Regions from separate parts of the Homo sapiens genome. Here region 1 is linked to region 2. Evidence: fine-mapped expression QTL. A gene starts in region 2. The other region holds a variant in brackets. All regions are shown on one strand. Distances are between the middles of the regions.

What was found.
Region 1: its variant is fine-mapped to the expression of FDX1 in monocytes after LPS (Quach 2016, PIP 0.91).

The regions. Positions count from the first base shown.
Region 1 is chr11:110,367,495-110,375,834 of GRCh38, reverse strand. The region is part of intron 2 of LINC02732 (long intergenic non-protein coding RNA 2732); the gene reads right to left. It overlaps LOC107984385 (a long non-coding RNA gene), which reads left to right. Exons shown (of 2, transcript XR_007062885.1): 2 at 3,666-4,051. Among named protein-coding and RNA genes, the nearest start is that of LINC02732, 17 kb to the right of the region's middle. The variant G/T (reference allele first, on the strand shown) is at 4,560.
Region 2 is chr11:110,425,350-110,433,689 of GRCh38, reverse strand. FDX1 (ferredoxin 1) reads right to left here and starts at 3,742. Exons shown (of 4, transcript NM_004109.5): 1 at 3,385-3,742. The coding sequence starts at 3,569. RefSeq lists an enhancer at 2,929-3,208 and a silencer at 3,279-3,928.

The DNA of each region.
Region 1 (8,340 bases), 58 kb after region 2:
CGACCTCGGCGAATTTAAAGTGGAACTGAGGTCCTTAGTCTTAGTCCATTTGTGCTGCTATAACAAAGTATCTTACACTGGGTAATTTATAAACAACAGAAATGTATTGCTCACAGTTCTGGAGGCTGGGAAGTCCAAGATAAAGTGCCAGCAGGTTCAATGTCTGGTAAGGGCTCATTGCACAGAGATGGTACCTCTTGCTGCATTCTCACATGGTAGAAGGGAGCAAACAGCCTCCTTTTAATCTCCTTTACATTATCCCATTTATGAAGGCAGTCTTCATGACTTAATCACTTCCCCCAAAGTCTCCACCTCCATGCTATGACATTGAGGATTAAGTTTCAGCCTATGATTTTGGAAAGCATACCAACATTCAGACCATAGAACCAGCCAATGAGATTGTGGGCTATTCTTCCACCATACTCAATGGGCAAAGACATGGAGTAGGGCAGAGAGCTGGATTTAACCAGGGTTGGAGTTTGGCCAAGTGAGTTTAAAGTACAATTAAAAGGACAAGGGAGTTTGGGATCTATTCAAGAGGGTGACTATGATGGACCATCCAATTTCAGTTGGATAAGGAAGTTGAGGACAGCAAGTCACAGTCACAGTCTGAGCCAATTCTCAGTGGCCAGGGCTATAGAAGGACACAGGCCATAAGAAGATAAGGAGGAACCTTGCACTGCTGGCCTCTGACAGTGAGTAGAACCCAATCTCTCTCTAAGCCAGTGACCCAATTTCCTCTGTCTTAAACAGCTCATAGTACAGCTGGCTCTTTCTCATTCTTCAGGCTGCTGTGAAATCTTCCCTGACTTCCCCAGCATAGGACACAGATCCTCCCTGCTGTTCTTAATAACACACTTTTTTTTTTATTTCTTTCAGGGCTTCTCACCATCTGGTTATTTTATTGATTTGTTTACATGTTTATTGTCTGTTTTTCCCACCAGAATGCAAGCTCCACAAGGCCAGGAATCTTTCCTGTCCAATTCACCACAGCAGCCTCAACCTGGCAGACAGTTCAGCATACAGTAAATATTCAAGAAATATTCATTTAACAAATTAGTTGATATTCTGGGTTGCTTGAAATGCTAAGCACTATACTAAGATTTTTATACACATTTTCTCATTTACCTCTCATCAGTCAAATATTTACTAGGGAAAAGCTGAAGCTTAATGAAGTTATATAATTTGCCAAAGGTCACAGAGCAAAGCCAAAATTTGAAACCCAGTCTTTCTGATTCTGAAATCCCTCTTCTCACCTTTGCAACTTTCATAAACAAATATTTTGTAAACCAAGCAACCATGCCTTATGCTAAGGTTTATACAAGAAAGCCAAAGAAAAAAGGAGGAAGGAGGAGATGCAAGAAAAGTGGCTGTGGCCCTAATTTTTGTTACGGCTATGGCATCTGTTCATGTGCAGACATTCTATAGAGTTCCAAATTAAATCTGCTTTCTGATTCTGGGTTCAAAGTTGGGTTTGGTTTGTTTGTTTGTTTGTTTTTGAGATGGAGTCTCGCTCTGTTGCCCAGGCTAGAGTGCAGTGGCGCCATCTCAGCTCACTGCAACCTCTCCCTCCTGGGTTCAAGCAATTCTGTTTTGTAATCCCAGCACTTTGGGAGGCCGAGGTGGGTGGATCATTTGAGGTCAGGAGTTCGAGACCAGCCTGGCCCACATGGTGAAACCCACCTCCACTAAAAATACAAAAATTAGCCAGGCGTGGTAACCTGCGCCTGTAGTCCCAGCTACTCAGGAGGCTGAAGCAGGAGAATCGCTTGAACCCAGCAGGTGGAGGTTGCAGTGAGCCAAGGTTGCACCACCGTACTCCAGCCTGGATGACAGAGTGACACTCTGTCTCAAACCAAAAAAAAAAAAAAAAAAAAAAAAAATTAAAGAAGGAAAAGATGCAAGATCTTTGTTTAAGAGCCACTACGTTTCCTCCTTATATCTTCTTCTTCTTTTCTTCTTGCTTTGTCAACTTCCTTTCAACACACTGCCTCCTTTCTCCTGAAGTATTTGTTTGGCATCTCCCAAAGTATAAAAGAGTCAAACTTAAAAAGGATACTAGCGGGTATGAAAGCAACAAAACAGAATATACAAAAATCTTGATCACCCATAAAGATCTAGGATATCAGAGAAATGTGTATACATGTGATCAGGAGATAGTGAGTTCAGGAGTAAAGGAGAACAAAACCAAATGATAATGACTCACATGTAAAAGAAAGGGAAGGTTGTGAAATTGTTTGCTACATTAGTACATGGGACAAAAATGTGATTGAAATTGTGTCATTCTTCTAATAACATGAATGTCACAAGTAAAACTAAAACTAGCAAGAGAATGTGAATAAAAGGCCCAGCTTGAAATCTCAAGCTTTCAGAAATAATGTTTTTCTATTTGCATCTCTTAGTACTGCTACAGAAAATGACTCATACATAGAAGGTCCAGAAAGGAACTAAATTACAGTGCTTTAAAACAAAACAATTACCCTGTCGTACTCTCAGTTGTCTTTAAATGAGCAAAAAGAAAGCTGAGATAGAAACCTCCTTATTCACAGCCTACACAGAAGCTCGTATGAAGGCAAATGGCTATTTTTGCCTCGGGGTGTGCCAGAATCAGGGTGAAAACTTGAACCATTTGCATTCTTTCAGGTTCAGTTTGAGGAGTAGCCAGACCTGTCATCCCTGGGAGGTCGGATCAGGGACCTAGCGTGCTTTGTCCTCTTACCACCCACTGCATGAATTGCAGTGACAGGCTTGAAGGCCACCAAGTGTGTCACTCCTTGTAAGACTGGGAAGGGCTGGAAAGAGTGTAAGGGTATCATTCCTTACCACATAGTCTCCCCACTCTTATTTGTCTATAGGAGTAAAGCTAAGTGCCTATGATACTCCTGCTTGGTGCCTGGAGCTGAGGTGTTCTCCTAAGGTAAAGGGTGATCCTGGAGAAGGGGCTTTCCATTCTCCATGCACAGATGGACCTGTCCATCACTCACACCCTCCAGAATCCACAGTGAGCAAAGGCAATTTCTCCAAAATTATATCTATTTTATTTTACTTTCTTTTTTTTTTTTTTTGCATTTTTGCATGTTACAGGAAAATAAATGTGTTTTAATTTTTTTATCTTAAGACCTAATCACTTTTATTTCATATCCAGGGAGAAAAGACAAAATATTTTAAAATTGGCAACCGGGCATGGTGGCTCATGTCTGTACTCCCAGCACTTTGGGAGGCCGAGATGGGCGGATCACTTGAGGTCAGGAATTCAAGACCAGCCTGGCCAACATGGCAAAACCCCATCTCTACTGAAAATACAAAAAAGAAAAAAAAATTAGCCACCTTGGATGTGGGCATCTGTAATCTCCGCTACTCAGGAGGCTAAGGCAGGAGAATCACTTGAACCCGGGAAGTGGATGTTGCAGTGAGCTGAGATTGTGCCACCGTACCCCAGCCTGGGTGACAGAGCAAGATTCCATCTCAAAAAAATAAAATAAAATAATAAAATTAAAAATTGGCATTTGGGATAACAAGGAAGCTCCATTCTGAAATAGATTCCAATTAGATCAAAGATTGAAATGCTAAAAGGAAATTGCAAGGCACTAGAGGAAAACACGGAAAGAACCCCCATTAAATATTGTAGACTGACCATATGCTTTCATCTTCTCTCCCTGTCGTAGGCTAAATAATGGCTCCCAAAGATGTGTCTACATCCTAATCTCCAGAATCTGTGAATGTTACTTTATGTGGCAAGTACGTGGCAGATGTAATTAAGTCAAGGATCTTTGGATGGTTATCCTGAATTATCTGGGTGGGCCCTAAATACAATCACAAGTGTCCTTATAGGAGAGAGGCTGAAGGAGATTTGGTACCAACAGAAGAGGAGGAGGAAATTGTGATCATGCAGAAACTGGAGTGATGGAGTCACAAGCCAAGGAATGCCAGCAGCCACCAGAAGCCGAAAGAGGCCCTGCCAACACCTTGATTTAGGCCTAATGAAACTGAGTTTAGATTTCTGGACCCCAGAACTGTGAAAGAATAAATTTCTGTTGTGTTAAGCCCCTAATTTTGTGGTAATGTGTCACAGCAGCCCTTGGAACCTAATACACTCCCCAAGCCATCACAATGACGGTTAAGGGAAGTAAAACGATAAAATTCATAAAGATAAAGAGAATAACAGAAAAGGATTTCAATAAGTGTTTGGAAGATGGAAAAGGAAAGAATGAGAAGCAACTTACTTATCAGAGTAGAGAAAATTACCTGAGAGCCTGGAGAAAGGGAAGTGAATAAGACAGAGTCAGTTCTCCCCAGAGAAGCCAGACACAGGGTCATTGAGCACCAAGCAGGGGCAGGAGTGGGGTGCAGGGCTGGCACTGGGGATAGAGTGGAAACATTAACATGGACCTTGGATCCCTGGGCCCTGACTCCTCTGACACTGGTCTTCCTGAACTAGCTGCATCCCTTCTTGTCATGCCCTCCACTCCAGTCCCTGCCCTTGACCCCACCACCACCACCTCAGCTGACACACATCAGTTCAGCTCACACTCCTTCTGTTAGAAAGAACCAGTCACAAG[G/T]TTCTTCCTGAATGCAATGGGGCTGGGAAATGCTGAGCAGTGCCAGGCACAGGCTTCCTCTAAACCACTCTGCACCAAGGAAGAAGGACATTTTTTTGATGGTCTAATACCCGTCTCTGCCACACTCTCTAAGGCAATTAATTTTAAAATTTTAGAATACTGGAAATAAAGAAAAGATACTAAAAACTTCCAGAATGAAAAACCAGGTCACATATTGCCTTATGGATCAGCAATCTGACTGGCATCAGCCTTTTCAATAGCAATACAAAATGCCAGAAGACAACAGGGCAATGCCCTCAAAATTCTGAGAGAAAATATCTTGCTAATAAAACATCTATTACACCTAGCAAGCAGCCATCCCAAAGGCAGAAGGCTGTGAAAGAACAAAAGGGAGCTATCTAGGGAGAAAAACATAACTGTTAATTATTATTATAATAATAATATATTTTTAGAGACAAGGTCTCTGTCAACCCATGCTGAGGTGCAGTGGCACAATCATAGCCCACTGCTATGGGCTGGAACTCATGGGCTCAAGTGATCCCCCCACCTCAGCCTCCCAGGTAACTAGGACTAGAGGCACATACCACCACACCCAACTTATTTTTGCTTTTATTTTTTGTAGAGGGGTCTCCTTATGTTGCCCACGCTGCTCTAGAACTCCTGGCTTCATGCAGTCCTCTTGCCTTGGCCTCCCAATGTGCTGGGATTACAGGCATAAGCCACCATGCCCAACCTTTAATAATTATTTAATGTGTTTGGGAATTTGGAGGAAAAGGATTACCAAAAGTTTGCCAAATCTCCAGTATCCTTTGAACAGAAAAAAATAGTAATTGTATGTAGAAAACTAAGCAATTTGGCCAGTGATGAAGGGGATTAGCAATTACTAATGTCAGAAAAAGCAGAAGGTTATACAAGAAAGAAGATATGATGACAAGATCCTATTTGGTTCAGTGGTGAATAATATTTAATAGTGACAAAAATGTAAACACTGACTTTTGGCTTAACTAAGTTGTTTTTTTTTTTTTTTTTGAGATGGAGTCTCACTCTGTTGCCCAGGCTGGAGTGCAGTGGCACAATCTCGGCTCACTGCAACCTCCGCCTCCTGGGTTCAAGCAATTCTCCTGCCTCAGTCCCCTGGGTGGCTGGGACTACAGGTGCATGCCACCATGCCCAGCTAATTTTTGTATTTTTAGTAGAGACAGGGTTTCACCACGTTAGCCAGGATGGTCTTGATCTCCTGACCTCGTGATCCGCCCACCTCGGCCTCCCAAAGTGCTGGGATTACAGGCATGAGCCACTGCGCCTGGACAAGTAAGCAATTTATATAACTGTATTGGAAAAATGAAGAGAGGGAAATAGGAAGGGTTAGAGTTGGATAAGAAATCAAAGGCTTCAACAATTTCCTTCCTAGGATCATACTCTATACATATTTTTGACACATATGCAAAGATTTATGTACAAAGATTTATGTACAACAATTTATGTACAAAGATTTCCATCATTGAATAAGAAATAGCAAAAACAGAGATGACTTAAATATCTATGAATTGGAGACTCTAAAACAGATTATGTTTGAATGAAATACAGTTTTTGTGGGGTGTTTTTGAGATGGAGTCTCACTCTGTCGCCCAGTGCAGAGATGTGATCTCAGCTCACTGCAACCTCCGCCTCCAGAATTCAAGCAAATCTCCTGCCTCAGCCTCCCGAGTAGCTGGGATTATAGGCACGTGCCACCACACCTGGGTAATATTTGTATTTTTAGTAGAGACAGGGTTTCACCATGTTGGTCAGGCTGGTCTCGAACTCCTGACCTCAATTCATCCACCCGCCTCAGCCTCCGAAAGTGCTGGAATTACAGGTGTGAGCCACCGTACCCAGCCTATTTTAATTTTTTTTTTTTTTTTTTGAGACAAGGCATTGCTCTGTTGCCCAGGCTGGAGTGCAATGGCACAATCTCGGCTCACTGCAACCTCTGCCTCCTGGGTTCAAGCCATTCTCCTGCCTTAGCCTCCCAAGTAGCTGGGACTACAGGCGCAAGCCACCATGCCCAGCTAGTTTTTGTATTTTTAGTAGAGAAGGGGTTTCACCATGTAGGTCAGGGTGGTCTCAAACTCCTGACCTCAAGTGATCCACCTGCCTTGGCCTCCCAAAGTGCTGGGATTACAGACATAAGCCACCGCGCCCAGCCCGCATTTGTTTTAAAGCCATCCCCAATATATGCTGACGTGATCTCTGGATACTGAAAATAAAACAAGACAAAATACACAAACAGAAACAAAGTGGAGACTAATGGGTCCATATACTACCACCTGTGAGTATTTTAATGCATGTATCAATATACACATACACATTCACAAACATTGAGTCTTATGTATATACAGACTATCTGAAAAAATACACAAGAAACTGCCTGTAGCAATCGACTTTGTGGAGGGGAATTATGGTTAAGAGGGCAGAGATAGATAGGGAATTGATGTAGTTTGGATGTTTGCCCTCTCCAAACCTCATGTTGAATATGCTCCCCAGGGCCGGGCACGGTGGCTCACGTTTGTAATCCCAGCACTTTGGGAGGCCGAGGCGGGCGGATCACAAGGTCAGGAGTTTGAGACCAGCCTGACCAACATGGTAAAACTCTGTTTCTACTAAAAATACAAAAATCAGCTAGGCGAACTACGGGTGCCTGTAATCCCAGCTACTAGGGAGACTGAGGCAGGAGAATCACTTGAACCCAGGAAGCTGAGGTTGCAGTGAGCCCAGATCACGCCACTGCACTCAGCCTGGGCAACAGAGTGAGACTCTGTTGAAAGAAAGAAAGAGAGAGAGAGAGAGACAGAGACAGAGAGAGAGAGAGAGAACTCCCCACTGTTGGAGGTGGGACCTGGTGGGAGGTGTTTGGGTCATGGGGGCAGATCCCCCTTGCCATCCTCATGGTAATGAGGAAGTTCTTGCTCCGTTCACGCTCTGTTCATTCACATGAGAGCTGGTTGTTTAAAGGAGATTGGCACCTCCTCTCTCTATCTCTCTCTCCTGCTCTCTCTCTTGCCATGTAACATACCAGCTCCCTCTTTGCCTTCTTTCATGAGTGGAAGCTTCCTGAGGCCTCACGAGAAGCAGATGCCAGCACTATGCTTCATGTACAGCCTGAGAACCATGAACCAAATAAACCTCTGTTCTTTATAAATTACCCAGCCTTAGGTATTCTTGTATAGCAACACAAATGAAGTAATACAGGGACCTACTCTTCACTGTATATAATTTTGTCACTTAAAAATTTTATGCTAGTGAATATATTACTTATATAATAAATACATGAATATTCACTATTAATATTATTCATGAATAATATAGTAATTATTGATTCAAATGAATAATTTTTCAAACGAAGGATAAAAGCAACCTGTTAAAAGACGAAAAATTTTTAAAAACACAAAATTAGCCCCCTTAATAGCTTCATATATCAAACATAATCTTAAAATATCTTTTCAGTATGTTTAACAATTTTCCTTTAGGTGGCAGTAATTACATATTTATTTTTTATAATAGCCACCTGACTAGCCTTTAGAATCAGTTCAACAATAATATTTGGTTGTCTTATTTTTCCTTTTCATAGGAAAAAAAATGTTTAAATATTAGAACCTACATTTATAAAATGCATGGCCCAGAAATGTTCCTGACTATTGTTATTGAAAATGAGAGAAAACAAGTTACAATTCAAGGGATATAAAACAGACTGGAAGGATATTCACCAACATGTTGGCAATGTTTGTCTCTGGGAAGTAGA
Region 2 (8,340 bases):
AGCCAAAACATGCTTTAAAACTAGTATTCCCACATATTATTCATAATTTTCAACATGAATAACTGCCATTTTTTTCAAAGTACAATGGCTGAGAATGAAAATACCCTAGAGGCAGGGAGGCCACTTTGGAGGTTATCAAAACAGCATAAACTAATCAGGGACAGAGAATGCAGTGACTTAACAGACATCCAGGAGGTAGACCAAAAGGTTTTAGTGACCATCTACATAAGATAAACTGAAAAGCGGAAAGAAAAACATTGGGATTTCCAGCTCACACAATTAGGTGGTACCATTTAACCTAGGTTTAAGACAGGAACCAAAGGAACTTTGGGGAAGACAGAAATAAGTTGAAGCTTAGACCTGCTGAATTTAATAATGAAAAAGCCAGATGAGAATGTCCAAACACCAGATGGCAATATGGGTATGGGTCTGAGCCCAGCAGAGAAGTCTAGAGATTTGACATCAACGAATGCCTGGTAGCTAAAGCTACAGGAAGCACATTAGAAAGAATTCCATCATTTATACACACTACTGAAAGCCAGAGGTTTCAGCGTTGCTGTTCTTCTGAAGCACTCTAGAGCTAAGCTTACAGCAAAGGAATTCGAAATCTCTTACATCAGCCTCCTCTTCTATAAAATTGGACAACATTAATCTTATAGTTCTGACAATGTATGCAAAATACGTAACACATAGTAGAATTCAACACACACTGATTAATAACTGTTATTTAAAGACCAAGCCCTTTTGCTAAGAAGCCCAACCTGTTGGTCTGTATTAAAGGTAAACAGCCCTACAAAAAACTGCCAAGTAAGAGTATTAACAGGTTTACCAAAGAAGAGGAGAGGAGGCGGAAACGAAAGAAAAATGTAATTCTTAAGTTGAAAGAGTATGGAACCTAAGAGTCAGAAGATGTAGACCCTATGCTGGGAGTGGTCACTCACGCCTGTAATCCCAATACTTTGGGAGGCTGAAGCAGGCAGATTACTTGAGGCCAGGGGTTCCAGACCAGGCTGGTCAACATAGTGAAATCTCATCTCTACTAAAACTACAAAACTTAGCCGAGTGTGGTGGCACGCGCCTGTAATCCCAGATATTCGGGTGGCTGAGGCACGAGAATCGCTTGAACCTGGGAGGTGTAGGCTGCAGTGAGCCATGATGGCACCACTGCACTCAGGTGAAGAGTACACCAACACCTCCAAAATCACCACTAAAGAACTAACCCATTAACCAAACACCACCTGTGCCCCCAAAACTACTGAAATTTTAAAAATAAATAGAAATTTAAAATTTTTTTAAAATCCGCAAAAACTTCTTGAGTTCTAGTCCTAGTTTTGCCAGCTACTTAATATGAAATTTTTATTCCCATTTATCTACCCTCCCTACCTCATAGAATTGTCTTAAGAGTCATACGAAACAATACACGTGAAAGATCTTTGCTACCTGAATCACTGCAAACCCCCTTGTGTCACGGTATTTTAGAGTAAAAGGAGTTTTTCTGACTCTCAATTACTGATAGCTTATCGAGTTGTTAAACTTCAAAGACAGAACTACAGTTTCTAGAACTGCTCTGTCTGTCTATAAGAACTTTGTGCCATAACAAAGATGTTCTACACATACTTGCAATGTCCAATACAGTAGCCACTAGCCACATGTGGCTACTGAGAACTCGAAATGTGGCTAGTGTAACTACGAGATTGAATCTTTAATTTTATTTACCTTTAATTATGTTAAACTTCAATAGCCACATGTGATTAGTAGTTACGGTAGTTACAGCACAAGTCTCATTAACACAGTAAGAACTGGAAAATCCAGTTGTAGCTCCAAAGTCTGTAAGAGGAATGATAAGACCATGAATAGAAATTGTGCCAATAAAGAGGGCAGCAGGATTATGAGGAAATAGACGTGCTCCCCTTTAAAACAACCTGACATATCCAAATCCAAAAAACAAATCTGAGAAAGATAACTCCCAATTACTACAAAAACATTCATGTTCCCTTATACCAGTTACACAAGCATGTTCAATATCTGTCCCAATTGATTCAGTTGTCCAAAACTCATCCATTGTATAACAGAAAGCAAGGTACCCACACTGGTCAAAGACAGGGGGGGAAGTGCAGAGGAAACAGGAACAAATAAATCTGGCTTGCCTTCTCCCTGATTTCCCCCAAAGTTCACACAACAAAAATGTATGGAGCACCCACTAGATAACGGGATTAGTGGGGAAAAGATGACTGAAAGTCTTAGACCCTGCTCTCAGAGACCTCAAAAAGAAACTAGACAAAGCAGCGTACAAATCCAACACACTCTCCCTCTAGTTCTCGATTCCTGCTACCCTACATCATGCGGTCAAAGAGCTGTCGAGAGATCTGCATTATATAAATCGCCACCATGTTGGTAAAAATTATGTGTAAATTGTATCTCTAGTATATCTAAGGAGTGTCTTTGAAAAACAAATATGCCCAAGAACCTAAAACTTCAACACATTTGGGATAAATTGTCACATTTCTTTCAATATTTAATACAAAACTCTCTTAACATTGTGAACCTAAGAAGCTGCTGCTGCTGCTGCTGCTGCTGCTGCTGCTGCTACCAAGTGGCATCTACTGAGCCCTCATTACGTGCTAGGCACAAGACTACCTGTATCGCTGTATTAACTCATTGATTCTTCAATTAACCATAGGAGGTCTACACTGTTATTATATCCAACTTGCAAATGGAGAAACTGGGTTCCTAAGGACTGACCAAGTTAGGCACGTCAGACAATCAGTGCCAAAGCCAAGTTTCAAGTCCCGGCAGATTACTTCAACGCAGGGGCTTTCAACACTTGAGCAACTAGCAAAGGGCCTACAGGGCAGCAGAGGGTATGGGCTGGGTGTATTCTACCTGGACACCCCCTGACAAAGACCTGGGACCTGGGTGTCCTCTCAAAGCAGGGCAAGGCCCTGAAAAAAACAGCTGGCAGGTGTGTCAGGCCAGGACAGCAGGAGGGAAGCCTGTCGCGAAGGTCACTGCCAGTTTCGGGCAGAGCAAAGGTCAGATCCCAGACAAATCACACGGAGAACAAGCAGCAGCAAAGTCCCGGCTTTCCTCAGGGCACGGGAAGCGCTGGGAAAGGGAGCTGGGCGTCCAGGGTCCCCGATTCCCGCCGGGAGTGGGTGATGCGGAAAGGAACTCTGCGGTGCGACGGAAGGGAGGCAGCGACGCCACCGAGCAGCGAGACGGAGCCGCGAGAGCACCCCAGAAGAGGGGGGCGAGAGGCAGGCCTCCGGGGTGTGGGCCCGGCGCGCAGAAGGCACTGGAACCAGAGACTCGGCCCAGAGAGCCAGGCGCCACCCACCGGGGACCCCGGCCCGCGCCGGCGATCGCGCCCGCACGGCGCCCTACCTGCTCCGGGCCCGCGCCGACACGCTCAGCGACCGGCTCGCCTCCGCGCTCCCGCCCGGCCCCCGGTTCCTCAGCAGGCCGCTGGATCCAGCGCGGGACCCAGCGTGGTGCAGCCACCGGCCGGCCGGGCCGCCGAGGACAGCAGAAGCGGCGCGCAGCAGCCGGGCGCCCCCAGCGGCAGCCATCGCCCGCGGTCGGGAACTGCCGGAAGCGACGCAGGCCGCGCTTTGAGGCCGCGAGAGACTCCAAAGAGGCGGGGGCGGCAGCTGCGGCGCAGACGCCCGAGGGCCGCGGCGAGGGGCGCGGGGCTGGAGTGGCGGAGAGACCCTGCTGGAAGCACCGCGCCGAGGTTCCGCGTGCCTTCCGGGTGACCTATAAAGACATTGGCAAGCAGAGCGCGGCCCCGCCCCGCCTCTCACGCCCACGCCGCCCGGTCCCATGGGGCGGGGCCAGCGCAGGGGGCCTTTACCAACCCTCCAGGTTCCGTTGTAAGCTGGATGCTTTTTTAGCGGCTGAAGTTGCCGTGCAGAAACAAAATATTTTGAAAGATAGCTGGACGTCTAGCGGAAATCGGTTAGCTAGACCACTGTGTTCTGTTCCGCATACCCCCATCCCCTAGCCGTTAAAAAAAAAACTGGGAAATTGTGTCATCTTGGAGTCAAGTTAGAGCAAAGTGAATTCTGCCCACTGTAAAACAAAAACAGTGGGAAATTTTGGAAAATCTCAGAATGCTATTATACAAAGAAATAATTATGACTATAAAATTGTAAATGAAATTAATGAATAGGCTTGGGGCTCCTGCAGAGGACAGGTAGCCATCCTAGACCTTGACTGGCAAGTAAATGCTGGCTGAGTACATGAAACCCACGAGACTGAACCGGAAACTTTGTGATGAGCTGAGATCTCTAAAAGACTTTCACAAAAAACAGAAAAGATGAACTTTAAAATACACCTTATCATGGTTCATATGTTGTGGGAAATGCATGGGCTTTAAGGTCAGAAATAGCAATGTTCAGATCCAAGATCTACTGCTTTAGAGATCTGAGACCTTGGAAAAATTATTCTCATGGAGGATCAGAGTTTCCATAACTCTCAAACACAGATAAGATGTTCCAGCCTTCAGGGCCATTCTGATGTTAATCTAATACGCAATGCACACCGTGCGTCACAAACCAGGAAGGCTACCGCTTCCTGGGCCTTCCTCCATCAGGGTACTCATAAAGAGGCTAAAGGCCAAAGTCAAGGGGATATTGCAGATATGCTAAACACAATCAGATACTTTTTTTTTCTTTTTTTGACATGGGGTCTCTCTATTCTGCCCAGGCTGTAGTGCAGTGGCGAAATCTCGGCTCACTGCAACCTCCGCCTCCCAGGTTCAAGTGATTCTCCTGCCTCAGCCTCCCGAGTAGCTAGGACTACAGGCGTGTGCCACCACACGCCACTAATTTTTGAAGATTCAGAACAAGAAAGTGTAAGCATGAGTAAAGTATCTGCGGACAATGTATGGTGCTTTCTGGAACCCAATGGCAGAGAGAAGGCAGTGGCTCCTAATTGCCTCAAATCGTTGGATGAAGAGAAAGTCTTTCAAGCTGCGAAGGGCACAGCAAACCCTGACAAGTAATCTTGAAGAGGAGGTTGTAAAAGAACAGCTAACTTTTGTTTTTAGTAAGACCAAACTTCCAAGGTCGGATGAATTAGTTGTAGGAAGAGAATTGAAAAGAAAAAAAATCGTAGATGTTCTGTCTTCTCTCAGCCCTCCTGTAGCAAATACAGTTTCAACTCCCTTAAGGCACTTGATAGCTTTCTGCTTTGTAGGGTAGTTATTCGTACACATAGAGTAGTTATTTATATAGTTCATCTTAGTGACTCCGACAGCACCAGCTACAGGGTCTTGAACATATCAAGGGTCTAATAAATATTGGTGAATAAATTGATGTTATGAAATTTCCATTAATAATCATCAGAATTCATTAAGCATGTATATGAAGATTAAAGATAGAAAAAATGTTCTCCAGGTTTTCTAAGGTGGATGAGAAGTAATGCCAAAAATTGCAAATATCAGTAGTCAGCAGAATTCCAGAATGGATTTGTAAACATGATCATGAATACAGATAAAGCAACATGGAATTACTGAGGACGTGCTTTTGCTTATCTGTTTGCTTATGTATTTCTTTGTCTATAAAACTCCCACCCCTCCATCCCTTTTTTTTTCTTTTTTTCCTTAGAGATGGGGTTTTGCCATGTTGCCCAGGCTAGTCTGGAACTCCTGAGCTCAAGCAATCTGCCCACCTCAGCCTTCCAAAGTGCCGGGACTACAGGCATGAGCCACCATGCCCAGCCCATCTTTTACTCCTTTCAAAATCCATTCATTGTTTGAAGACTTTTGTCTTATTCTGTTTATGATGCTATAACAGAATAACACACAGACTGGGTAATGTGTAAAGAACAGGAATTTATTTTCTCACAGTTCTGGATACTGGGTCGCCCAGGTGCCAACTGGTTTAATGTCTGATAGAGAGGCCCAGTCTCTGCTTCCAAGATGGTGTCCTGTTGCTGTGTCCTCACATGCTGCAAGAAGGGCAAACATGCCAATTTCCTCCAACCCTTTTATAAAGGTGTCAATCGAGAAAAATGATGAGACAATTCTCAATCATTTTAGGAGATTGATTTGCCAAAGTTAAGGATGCACGCCCAGGAGACAGTTCTATGCCTTTCTCTGAAGATGATTTTGAAGGCTCCAAATTTAAAGGGGAAAAGGTGGGATATTGAGAAGTACATAATTTTCATGTATGGCGGGATAAGGAAAAATAGTCATTCATACCCTTGTCTAGCTCAGTGCATCTGCTTTTTTTTATATATAAGATGACAGAGACAAATGGAGCAGAGGAAAAATGCAGGAAATCTACATTTTTACGTAAGATAGCATAGGCAAAATGGGGCAGGGGAACAATGAGATATTCATTTGTGTTTGGTGGGCAGCAGGGTGACTGCATCTGTAAAGATAATCTATCCATTTACATTGCCATGGTGAAATTTTAACAGAAATACCTTAAAAGATCTTGCAGCTCACTAGGAATTTCTTTGTGGGCAAAATATGGAGGAGACATGTAGCTTTTCATCTTGTAGCCATCTTATTTACAAACCAAAAGGGGGACGCAGATTTGCATGACCCAGTTCCTAGCTTAACTTTTCCCTTTGGCTTAATGAGTTTGGGGTCTCAAGATTTAATTTCCTTTCACATTTTCCCTTCTTTTTCTTTAAAATCTTTTGGAGAAAGCATTTTAGAAGGAATACAGCTTTCTGGCCTAGGGTTGTTTTTTCTTCCTTTTCTTTTGAGCTGGTTTCTCCTCACTAGGTTGGTTAACTCCTAGAAGTTCAGGTCCCACGTTGCTATGAAGGCTCATTCCTAAGACATTATGTCCCATGAAGATAAAAAAAAATGGGAAAAAAGAAGGAAAAGAAAAAAAAATACACACACACACACATATATATGTATATATATATGGACCTAGGCCAGATGTATAGCAACAAATAGGAAGCAAACCTGGAAGGTGGGTCAGGTTATATTACTGCCTCCTCAATTAGAGCAATTCCCTGGGCAATCATTACCCTAGCCCTTTCAGTTGTGTGTGGACTTATTTGCAAGCACATACCTTAACAACACTGTAAGCAGAAACAGGACAGAACAGAAATTATTATTATTATTATTATTCCTATTATAAGCAACAGCTTCTGCCACCAACTTCCCCAGGATGCAAACCAATCACTCAACCAATTGATTAGTGAGGGTTTTGGATCTGACAGGTTGGTTTTCCGGGGTTTCATATCAGTCATAAGTCAGGTTATGTTCTTCGATTCATGTGGAATATACACACAGCATTCAGCTTTTATGATGGTGCAGGCCCCCCGCTGTGCTGCTGTGAGTATATCTGAGGCCATATGGTTTTGCAACACAGCTTTCCTCAAAAGCATGACCTCATTATTTAGCAACGGGATACTCATCTGGCTATCATTTAGGGCCTTTTTGGTGTAATTCATTAAGGCCTCTATAGGCCATATAATGTCTTCAATACTTAGCTTCAATCTTCAAGTGATCATGCCCCTGGAATACTGAACGTGTCCAGTGAGATCGTAAATGAAAAAGGCTTGCTGGTTTTGGCAGGGTCTGAATTATTCACCCCTGTTCTCAAGCGTAACCTGGGGAACATTTTCCTAATCACCCTGGAGGTGACCACAGCCGTAAGTTAGTACCACACAGCCAATATGTCCCATTTGGAGCTAGCCAATAAATACCTAGTTGCTACAACCAATCGGTGGCATGCCAGTCAATGTCTTGTAATATGATAATGTGGTCACAGCATTCTCCCAGTATCCACCCCATATTTCTCATACTTTCTGGCCATAAATCCTTGGTGTGGTTTCTTTGCTCCCAGCATTTTGGCTGAGTTGGCCAAATGAAGGGGTGAGCCAGAGAAATTCATCCCAAATTTGCATTATTCCATTTTGAAATGGGCTGTTGTTTGGGGCATAATTACCACCTTTTTTTTTTTAGTTGTGGGGGATGCTAAAGTGAGAGCTAATGAGCTGGTCCTTTCCATTGAAAAACTTTTCCCATCTTCCTTGTTCTCTTATGCCAGCACTAAGAATACCAGACCATTTCTGTGATATAATAAATTTTTGGTCCTAACCTTGGAAGGAGGATACCTACCATGGCAGGCCAGAGCCACTGGAAAGAGGCATGAGTCTGTATATCCAGCAGGTGTCCTTTTGTAATCTGTCTGCATACTCCTGAGCCTATTGTAGAAACAGGTTTGTTTCACTGGAGTCAGTGGGTGAAAATGGCAAGAAGGTGTAGGGATATAGGGTCAATAATAGCAAGGTTGTAAAATTCATTTAGCTACTAAAAGGATGTTAAATCAGACAAGGCAAGTGTCCTGTTCTTTGTAAGACAGCAGT